Regions from separate parts of the Homo sapiens genome. Here region 1 is linked to region 2. The links come from fine-mapping of genetic effects on gene expression. A gene starts in region 2. The other region holds a variant in brackets. All regions are shown on one strand. Distances are between the middles of the regions.

Evidence for each region. PIP is the estimated chance that this variant, and not a neighbour inherited with it, causes the effect.
Region 1: its variant is fine-mapped to the expression of TCTA in blood mononuclear cells (TOPMed, PIP above 0.99).

The regions. Positions count from the first base shown.
Region 1 is chr3:48,552,449-48,557,819 of GRCh38, forward strand. It overlaps PFKFB4 (6-phosphofructo-2-kinase/fructose-2,6-biphosphatase 4), which reads right to left and starts at 4,355. Exons shown (of 14, transcript NM_004567.4): 1 at 4,233-4,355. The coding sequence starts at 4,329. RefSeq lists enhancers at 1-635, 4,758-4,847, 4,978-5,067. The variant C/T (reference allele first, on the strand shown) is at 2,073.
Region 2 is chr3:49,409,946-49,415,316 of GRCh38, forward strand. TCTA (T cell leukemia translocation altered) reads left to right here and starts at 2,478. Exons shown (of 3, transcript NM_022171.3): 1 at 2,478-2,695; 2 at 3,111-3,165; 3 at 4,875-5,371. The coding sequence starts at 2,482. The coding sequence ends at 4,917. RHOA (ras homolog family member A) reads right to left here and starts at 2,031. Exons shown (of 5, transcript NM_001664.4): 1 at 1,875-2,031. RefSeq lists enhancers at 1,178-2,152, 2,051-2,345, 2,281-2,690 and silencers at 1,471-1,560, 1,571-1,850, 1,911-2,210.

The DNA of each region.
Region 1 (5,371 bases), 860 kb before region 2:
GAGACCCCATGAAACAGGCTGACTGAGTGAGAGTGGAGAAACTTGCAGAGAACTCTCAGTATTAGCTAAGGTGAGAGGAAAACAAGTTAGGCAAGGCCTTGCCTCCTCAGGGCCGGTGGACAGCTGAGGCCCGCATTGTGCATTGTTTGCATAGTTCCCGGCCAGGTGGCCGGGCTCTCAAGCAACCAAGGGCAGTGCGACAGCTGCTAAGCAGGAGGAAATCCTGCATCTACCCTGCTCCCGCTGATGGGGCCACCCCCCAACTGCTCCTTCAGGGACTCCCAAAACCTCAGGACTGGGGATCTGCACCCCCTCTCCACATCTCCTATTTTCCCAGAGACAGCTCCAGCCTCCTCCCATGGCATTTGGTGGCATTTCCCTTCCCGCCTTCCACCCACATGCGCAGCACAAGGTGGGCAGGCAGGGCAGCAAATCAGGCCTGGGTGCAAAACAAGGCAATAAATTACCTATCTCCTCTGCTCCCCAAGATAAGCTCCCAAGGAAATGACCCAAAAGAAAACCAAAGTTCAAGTGTATCACAACAGCTCTGCTTACCATAGCAAAACACTGGGAAATTCCAGCCATAAGAAATTGCCAACTGAGGCACAACAAGGAGGGAACACATTGCAGCTCTCAAAACAGAGCACGTGGACTAAGCGGGCTGGGTGCACGGCTGCACCTGTGGCTCTGAGCCCACAGGACCCTGACACTGAGCAAACAGGATGGTAGAATACACTGTTTATAGCTGGGCGTGATGGCACATGCCTGTAATCCCAGCACTTTGGGAGGCCGAGGCAGGCAGATCACCTGAGGTCAGGAGTTCGAGACCAGCTTGGCCAACATGGTGAAACCCTGTCTCTACTAAAAATACAAAAATTAGCCGGGTGTGGTGGTGCACACCTGTAATCCCAGCTACTCGGGAAGCTGAGACAGGAGAATTGCTTTAACACAGGAGGCAGAGGTTGCAGTGAGCCAAGATTGTGCCACTGCACTCCAGCCTGGGGGACAAAGCAAGACTGTCTCCAAAAAAAAAAAAGAACACACTGTTTATAACATTGAGCATGTGCGGAAGGAAATGTGAAGACATGTCAGCCCAACTTCCCTCATGGGTTCCTTTCCTGTAAATTCGCTGCAGGCCCCATGAGCTCTAGGAGCGAAGGGGCCCAAGGGGCCTGAGACGTGCCTGGCAATGGGCAGTGTCTATGTTCCATTACTTCTACCCAAGGAGCAGCCACAAGTCCCTGGAGGGGGTGCCAGAATTGACTCCTGAACTGCAACTGCTCTCACCTCCTTAGGCCAGGCTAGGGAAGGAAGAGCTCTTTAAAATAAAGTAACGTGCCATGGAGGCCCTTTTCAGAGGGGACTGAAAGTCATCTCTCCTGTTGCCCTGTGCACACACCAGTCATGTCCTTACCCAGGAAGAGTCTTGCCACCTTTCAGCTGAGAAAAGCCATCAAACACCGTCCTTTCTGCAGTCCTTCTTGAGTCAGCTCTTGCCCCACCTGCCCTCAGAGTTCCTCCAGGTCTGAGCTCGGAGGCCAATGATGGGAAAGGTAAAAGCCTCCCAAGCCCTCAGGTGTGGCTTTAAATTTTATCAAGCGGGGGCGTGCCTGTGGGAGTGGAGGAGGTGCAGTACATCCCTCAGTCCACCAGCCCCTAGTGCCCTGAGGAGCTGGGGACTAGACTCCAGAGAAAACCCAGTACAAAGCACAGACCAGCAGTGGGTCCTGCTTCTTCCTCCCCACAAAGCCCTGGGACCAAATCCGCTTCCATCCCCACCCACACCCTCCGGGTCCAGACTGTCCTTGCAGTCACTCAACCTACAAGTCTACTATGCAAAGGGTAAAGTGTTGCCCAAATGCAGGCACTGGGAGCTGGAGGTGCTGCATGGGCGGGTTCCATGTTCATTCACTGCTTACCCACTCCCTGCTGTGAACCCTGAGGCCCAAATCCCCAAACAACCTGCAGGTCTCATCTTTGGCCTCTCAGGTGCTACCTCCTCCTCCAGGAAAAAGTGCGGACCTAGAACCCAGCCTACCCCAACACCCTGAGACACCGTGATGGCACGAGCC[C/T]CTCAGCTCAGGCCAGAGCCACATTTCAGTTCCACACTTAGAGCCTGGAGAAACACAAGCCCTGCCTCAGGAGCTATGAGACCTTCCCATTGGGCCTCAGCTTCCTCTCACCTGTAACGGGGGTTGGCTTGGAGCTGATGCATCAATCCCTGACTCAGACGTAGTGAGAAGCAAAGAAAGAATGGTAGTGATGACAGAATACCCTGCCTCCGCTTATTGAGGACCTACTCCTTAAAGGCTCACAGACTTGGCTAGGCATGGCAGCTCATGCCTGTAATCCCAACACTTTGGGAGGCCAAGGGGGGCAGATCATTAGAGATAACGAATTCAAGACGAGCCTGGCCAACATGGTGAAACTCCATCCTACTAAAAATACAAAATTAGCCGGCCATGGTGGCGCATACCTGTAATCCCAGCAACTTGGAAGGCTGAGGCAGGAGAATTGCTTGAACCCAGGAGGTAGAGGTTGCAGTGAGCTGAGATAGGACCACTGCACTACAACCTGGGCAACAAGAGTGAAACTCCGTCTCAAAAAAAAAAAAAAAAAAAAAGTCCAGGTCCTCACTCCTTTCCCCTATGTAGTAATAGCAGCCACCCCCCTAAGTCAGGACCACACAGCCCTAATAACACAGACTGGCTCAGCCTCCCCGCCTCCAGAAGAGTCTCAAAGGAGGGGTGGCCATAGCCCTCAGGACTGAGTGTGCATTATAGACAGCACAGCCCCACCAGGACCTACATCACAATCAAAGCCATGAGTTACCACGACTTGGTCTGGTCAGAAACATGGCCTTCCCCTGCCAGGACTCACAGTGTGGCCAGAAATACACACACCCTTCCCCCAGGACTCATATCATGATCAAAGCCATGGCTCCAGGCTGCTGCAGCAGGATGAGCACAAAGAACTCTCCCCTTGCTTATCATACATAAGCAGAGGCAGGATCACAGGGAGACCCAGGCATGTCACTCAATCTCCTGATCTCCATTTCACTGTCTGTTAAACTAGATGTTCTCTGAGGTGCTGGACAAGCTGCAAATTCATTACAATGTTTCAGTTACTCCTAAAACAAATCTTTCTTTTCCTGGTAATAAAAAAGTTGCAGGCCAGGACCCACGCCTGTAATCTCAACACTTCGGAAGGCCGAGGCCAGAGGATCCACTTGAAGCCATGAGTTGGAGACCAGCCCAGACAACATAGCAAGACCCTGTCTCTACAAAAAAAAAGAAAAAAGAAAAAAAAAAGCTGGGTGTGGTGGCGCACCTATAATCCCAGCTAATCGGGAGGTTGAGGTGGGAGGATTGCTTGAGCCCAGAAGGTCGTGGCTGCAGTGAACTATGATCGCGCCACTGCACTTGCTCCAGCTTGGGCCACTGAGCGAGACTCATCTCTTAAAAAAAAAAAAAACTGCCAGCTCATTTAAGGACAGGCAGAAACTCAAGGAAGCGGTTTAAACACCTGGGACCCTAGGAGAGGTGAGCCCCTTAACAATTCCATGAATTTCAGCATTCTCCTAGCTGTTTCACTCTCCAGTTTTACTGTACACCCATGACCCCAGGTGGATACTTACATGTCCCGGGACACAGACACAGGCCCACACGGCATACTTTTCTGTCTCTATCCTGAGCACATCTCTGCTGAAGTTCCTGCCCAAGCTCAGCTTTAAGGCCAAGAGGCACCCTTCCTCCTGTTGGAAAACTAGCCCACCTTTGAAAGTTCTGGGCTCAGAGAGGCCAAGTAATTCACCTAGGGCCACACAGCTCAGTTCCAGTCCAACAACCCGGCCCACACTCCTTGGCCAGGAGAGAGGGAAGGGCCTGGGGTGCCCACAGGGTCCTCCCCAGACTGGGGGCGATGGGGATTGGAGAGGGAAGCGAGGGGGCCAGAGCCCTCCCCGAGGTGATGGTGGCCAGACCTAGCCACCGCCAAGCCGATATGCCCCCACACACCTGTCCCCGCCCCCTGCTCTGCCACACCTGTCTCTGGCCCACCACTGTCACGACCGCCTCACCTGTCCCCAGCAGCCTCCCCAGTCACGGCAACCTCACCTGTCCCCGGTTCCCCATCTGTCTCCCGCCCCTTCTCCATGCGAGACCCCCGCCCAGGCCGCCCTACCCACCCATCCCGGTGCACCTCCCACCTCCTCCCAGAGGACCCCGCCTCACCACCGCGCTGGCAAGCGTGCAGAGCGGGCCGCCCATTGCTGTATGGCATCCAGATCTTCTTCAGGGGGTTCTGTGTCAATTCCCGTGGGGACGCCATCCCGGGGCCGGGATGAGTCGGACTGCGCCGCTTCCAACCCAGCAGCCGGGCCACCTCGGGCCACCCGAGGTCCCGCCCCTTGGGCCCCGCCCCTCCTCAAGCCGCGACAGCCCATGTCTATCTTCCCGCAGGTCCCGCCCCAGAGTGAGTAGGCTCCGCCCCAGCTGAAAGGGGCCCGGCCTCCGACCACGCATGCCCAACTCACCTACCCGCCCGTTTTGGAACAAGTGGGCCCAGTTCTTCAGGCCAGGATCGAGAATGCGCATGCTCAACTCCGGATTGTACTGGTCCCGCCCCAGTTCAAGGCCCGGATTGTGCAGGCCCGCCCCGGATGCGCAAACTCAGCTCTCCCAACCTGCCCGCGCTGATTTGCATAGGCCCCACCTACGGGCTCCGCCCTGGCGCTGCATCCCTGAGCAGCGGCACGCGTGAATTCTGCTACCTCCTTGCTAGGGAGCCCAGGGCCCCCAGGAGGGAGGGGTTTTCATGCAGTGGGACGAGGCCTACGTGACCCGCACGGCCAGGTTGGTCAGAGCCGACAGGGGCCAGTAGGCCTGCAGTCCCAGCCGTCAACTCCGCTGCGCCCTCCTGCCCCTCCTCGGGGTCCCCCTTGACTGCTCCGAGCCCCGGGACTCTTCCGCCGTCCATAGGAGCATGCTCAACCACGCTGGAAAAGCTCTTTTACCTCATGGATAGAGACTCAAAACACATTTCAATATTGTTCCTCTTTCTTTGCTTTGGCTGCTGGGAGCAAATGCGTGGGACTTTTTTTTTTTGAGACGGAGTTTCGCTCCTGTTGCCCAGGCTGGAGTGCAATGGCGCTATCTTGGCTCACTGCAACCTCCGCCTCCCGGGTTCAAGGGATGCTCCTGCCTCGGGTTCCCAAGTAGCTGGGATTACAGGCGCCCACCACCACGCCCTGCTAATTTTTGTATTTTTAGTAGAGGCGGGATTTCACCACGTTGGCCGGGCTGGTCTCGAACTCCTGACCTCAGGTGATACGCCCTCCTCAGCCTTCCAAAGTGCTGGGATTACAGGCGTG
Region 2 (5,371 bases):
GGTCCCTTAAAAAAAAATCCAAACAAAGCCATGATTAGGCCAACCAGGGACCCTCGTACATTCATCTATCTCCCTCAATTGAAGGCAGGACCATCCAGTTAACAAGGGGAGAGTGCTGTGTAAGCTAATGAACCGAAATTTTTTGGCAAATGAACAGTTTCTCCCAAACTATTCACCATCAACAAGGTTTAAAAGAAGAAACAATGGAATAAGCTAGAAGTCCTGAATTTTAGCTGACTCTGGAGGCCAACTGCTTGGGAGTAAATGGAGAATACCTTAACAGAGCAGACAGTTCTGGTCTGCTCCTGACTAGATAGGTAACCTTGGGAAATTTACTTAAGTCTCTGGGACTCAGTTTGCTCATCTGCAAATGGGGTTGGACAACCAGTCCTGAAAGATTCCTCTTAGATCTAAAACTCAAGAACTACACAGTATTCCTACTCTCTTCTTCCCTCCAACACAGATTTTTATGAGAACAGAGAGGATAAATCTAGCACTAGACTTTAACTCAAACCAAGGTGCACCTTATATATTTAATGTCCCCAAGAGCCATCAGTGCTCCACAAAAGTAGATGGAACCAATTAAGACAAGTTATCCAGAGATCCTTCAATAAGTCATTCTTTACAATTAAAAACTAGTTTTTCAGTCCAATGTCACTTGTGCCAAATGCTCAAAACAGTATCTCCGCCAATCTAGCCACATCTAAGGTGACAATCATCCGCATGGTACACATTACACATCTGGGTGATACTAAGTGGTTGAAAAATTCTCTCCACATACAACATTTTAAATTATGGAAGTTTTTTGGTTTTTCAATTTTTCTCCTTCAGAAAGGCAGAGTGAAATATCTACTTACACACCTGCAAGAAACGTTTAAGACTTTCTTCAAGACAGAACCAAACAAGTCAACAACAGAGGTAAAAATTTAAAATCAGAACTATTAAAAAACACAAGTGGAACCAACTTTGAGGTAAAAAGGATTCCAATTTTCCACCGTAAACTACTAAACAAGGTTTGTGAACAAATCAACTTGGATGCGAATAGCGCTATTCAATGAAGACGACCCGTAACTGTAGATCCAATCAGTAACTAAGGTACAGATATTTAGATCATTCCTAATCAATACAGCGACTTCGACTAAGCAACATTGCATCTATTTTCATGCAACATCGCTTAAATCATTTACAGTTTTGTGTGTTGTTTTTTTTTTCCAAATGGAAAATACCCCTTTTCCACTCAAAACAGACCCCAAAGCTTTCAGACGAGTTCGGGCGCGTTCCAGGTGGTATGGCCGTAGATCATACCCCTAAGCGTTCAATACAATCTTTTACTTACTTACACAGTCTCCAACAAGTCTGCATTAAAAGAAAACCTACCCAAAGTGTAACTGGACTTTAATCAATATGAAACAGTGATTGTCGTTTCTCGTTAAACGTAAAAAGCAAAATGGAGTTGTAAAGAGTTTCTTTCCCATTTCAACTCCGACAGCCACGCGCGCTTTCAGCGGCCGGCTACACTGCGCGGTCGCGGGGCCCGGCCCAAAGCCCCCGCCCTGCCCGGCGCCGCTGGGAGAGGAAGCTCCGGGGACCGAGGGCGGGCAGGCGGGCAGCCTGGGCTCCACCAGGCCCGGCCGGGCGGGGGAAGGGGCACAGGAGACTACCGGGCGCGCTTCCGGGGACTGCGCGGGCGGGGTCGCCGCTTGGGGCGCGGGGCCCGGGCTGGGAGTCAGGTCAAGGGTCAGGGGCCAGGGGCGGCTCGGCCACGAGCAGCCGGTGGGGCGCGGCCGCGGCGGTGCGGCGGCCTGCCGGCCGGAAGAGTACCGGGCTGGCGGGCCTGGGGCCCCGCGGCGCCTGGAGGGAACCCTTCCGCTCACCTCAGGCAACGAATCCGAGTCCAGCCTCTTCGCGCCGGGGACGCCGGTCCGCGAGTCGCAAACTCGGAGACGAAGGCGGGTAGCTGAAGACCAGACCGTGGACTAACGAGAGAACCGACGGAGGACCGCGGGCGGCGGGAGGGTAGCGCGAGAGAGCGAGGGCGGGCGGCGGCGGGAGGGCGGGGAACGACGTGCGCGCCTCCGAGTGCCCAGCGGGCTCGAGCCGGCACAGGTCGCGGCCCCGCGCACGCGCGCGCACTCACAGCTCATCCACTATTGCTCAGGAGCCCGTCCACGCCCTAAAAGCAAAACCCTTAACCAATCATTGCAGCCGCGTGGGGCATCACGGGAACTCCGGGGCTATAAAAGACCTGGTTGCTATTTTGTACTCCCGGAGTCACTCATCCCTTAAGCAAGCAGGGTGGGGTTAGGTGCGCGTGCGCGGTTTTAATACTCCTCCCCGAACTGCCAACTCTTCACGCACGCGAAGTAGGCCCCACCCTGGCTGGGTTTACGCGTGCGCACTAACGGGCCTGGTCCCGGAAGACCACACGCGTGCGTGGTGGGGACTACGGTGACAGTACCCCGGGTGGGGCGAGGGCCAGTCATGGCGGAGTCCTGGTCTGGGCAGGCCTTGCAGGCTCTGCCGGCCACGGTGCTGGGCGCGCTGGGCAGCGAGTTCTTGCGGGAGTGGGAGGCGCAGGACATGCGCGTGACCCTCTTCAAGCTGCTGCTGCTGTGGTTGGTGTTAAGTCTCCTGGGCATCCAGCTGGCGTGGGGGTTCTACGGGAATACAGTGACCGGGTTGTATCACCGTCCAGGTGAGGCTTCCTACGAACCTCCGTGGGCTGGCCGCCCCCGCCCCCACCCTCTCCCGACTGTACCATTGGGTTCCCCACTATCCTGCAAGAGGCTCATCAGAACTTAACATTGGTTCACGGCCTTACTACCCTGAACGCATCTGACCTCGGAAGCTAAGCCAGGTACTTGGATGGGAGAACTTAACGTTGTGCCCTGACTCATGCCACCATACCATTTTACGCCAGAATCCCCACCAGTCCACCCATCACATTGTATCTGTTCCTCAGAACTCTCACCTGGCAATACCATTAGTCCCTTAGGACCCTCACCAGACTTCACCAAACAATACCAGTGGTCTCTAACCTGACCTGGGCTGATGCCTGCTCAGATTCCCACCCCAGCCTTCTGCAGCTCTGGATGTGTTTCTGCCTCCAGGTCTGGGTGGTCAGAATGGATCCACGCCTGATGGCTCCACGCATTTCCCTTCGTGGTGAGTAAATCTGTCCATACCGCAACCCCATGCTTGGCATTCCAAGGACACTCCTGTGCTGGTGACAGAGAGGGGAGTTCTCAGGCTTTAAGCCCACCAGCTTAATGGCCTTTGCAGCAAGCTTCAAGTCTGCACGTAGAGCTCAGGCTTCAAGTTAGGGTGACACCAAGGTCTGGACAGTCCATCATCATGCTGTTCAGCAGCCTGTAGGATAGGTGGTGGTATTGTCATAATTTCAGAGAGATGAAATGACAGGTTTGTTGGATTCCACTCTGCACAATCCCCTCAGTTGGGAAGGCAGTAATCTCTGTCCTGAGCACATTGACCTCATCAGGGTCAGCCTCCTCTTCTGCAAAACATGCGCTCACTAATCAGGGCATTCATTCAGATAATCTCTGGGCCCCTATCACGTGATAGGGGCCACACGAGGCCCAGAGAACAAAGACAACCCGGGCCCTGCTCATGGGGAGCCAGGGATTTATTAGGGGAGGGCGGCAGTGCATGGGGCAAGGGTGGTCAGGGAAGGCTTCTCCCAAGAAAGACACCTAAGCCGAGATCAAATGCCACAGGGTGACAAAGTGTACCAAGCAAAGGGAATGGATTGAGCAAGGCTAAGAGGGAAGAATACGGGTGACATATTAGAATAGGTAAGACTGTGATGCTGGAGCTTGAACGTGAGAGCTTGTTGGACCCTGGGAGCCATTGAAAGACTAACTCAGCAAGGCTGTGGTCTGATCTAATTTGCCTTTATAAATGCCTACTTCATGGCAAGTAGATAAAGGGGTCCAAGAGTTAGGGCTAGAGGTTAGAAAGGCTGCCACTGCCCAGGTTTCTGTCTTAGAGAAGAGGCCAGGCCCCATGGCTCATGCCTGTAATCCCAGCACTTTGGGAGGCTGAGATGGGCGGATCACTTGAGGTCAGGAGTTTGAGACTAGCCTGGCCAACATAGGGAAACCCCGTCTTTACTAAAAATAGAAAAAATTAGCTGGGCATGGTGGCATACGCCTGTAATCCCAGCTACTCGGGAGGCTGAGGCATGAGAATCACTTGAACCCAGGAGGCAGAGGTTGCAGTGAGCCCAGATCACGCCACTGCACTCCAGACTGGGCATCAGAGTGAGACTCTGTCTCAAAAAAAATAACAGGCCGGGCATGGTGGCTCACGCCTGTTCCTAGCACTTTGGGAGACTGAGGAGGGTAGATCACCTGAGGCCAGGAGTTTGAGACCAGCCTGGCCAACATGGCGAAACCCCGTCTTCACTAAAAATACAAAAACTAGCTGGGTGTGGTGGCGGGCGCCTGTAATCCCAGCTACTTGGGAGGCTGAGGCAGGAAAATTGCTTGAACCCGGGAGGTGGAGGCTGCAGTGAGCTGAGATCTTGCCATTGCACCCCAACCTGGGCAACAAGAGTGAAACTCCGTCTCAAAAAAAGAAAAGTAATAACAATAGTAATAAATAAAAAGAATAAAAAAACTAGAGAAGGATGGCAATGCCGTACTAACATGGAGAACCAGGAAGAAGAATGAGTCTGCAGGGAGAAGGTGCTGGGCCCAGGGTGGGCTGTGGGAGACCAGCAGAGAGGTCTAGATTGTTATGTGACCTTACTGAGCCTAGCTCAGCCCCCAAGAAGGAGCTTGGGAGAGCCAATTTCAGCAACTGTTCTGCCCATGGAATAACCACTCTCTCTTCTCTCTCTCCATCACTTTCAGGGAAATGGCAGCAAACGAACCTCTCAAAACCCACAGAGAATAAGGGAAGGCAGCAGAGGGTCTCCAAGGGCATCACTGGGTCTGCTGGCTTCTACACTGGGTTCTGCTACTCCCCAGACCTCAGGGACAACTGCCGGGGGTTCAGGGTTGGTAGCAGGGAGTACCCAGTGCCTACAGGGCTGGGCCTCTTCTGCCTCTTAAGCCTGCTCCCTCACCCAGGCACTGGGCAAGTGAAGAGTTTGCCTGTACTCTTATCTGGGTGCCTTAAGGAGAGAGATTGTGTTCTTCCTCTCTCAGGGGTGATAACTCAGGAAGCCTCTGGGTTGGGAAGACCATCAGTTCTTTTGTCTTAGGTTTCTTTTCCTGTCCCTCTTCCATCCCCAAGATGTGACCCCATAAAAATTTTTCCTGAGTTGGCCAGGCATGGTGGCTCACGCCTGTAATCCCAACACTTTGGGAGGCTGAGGCAGGCAGATCACGAGGTCAGGAGTTCGAGA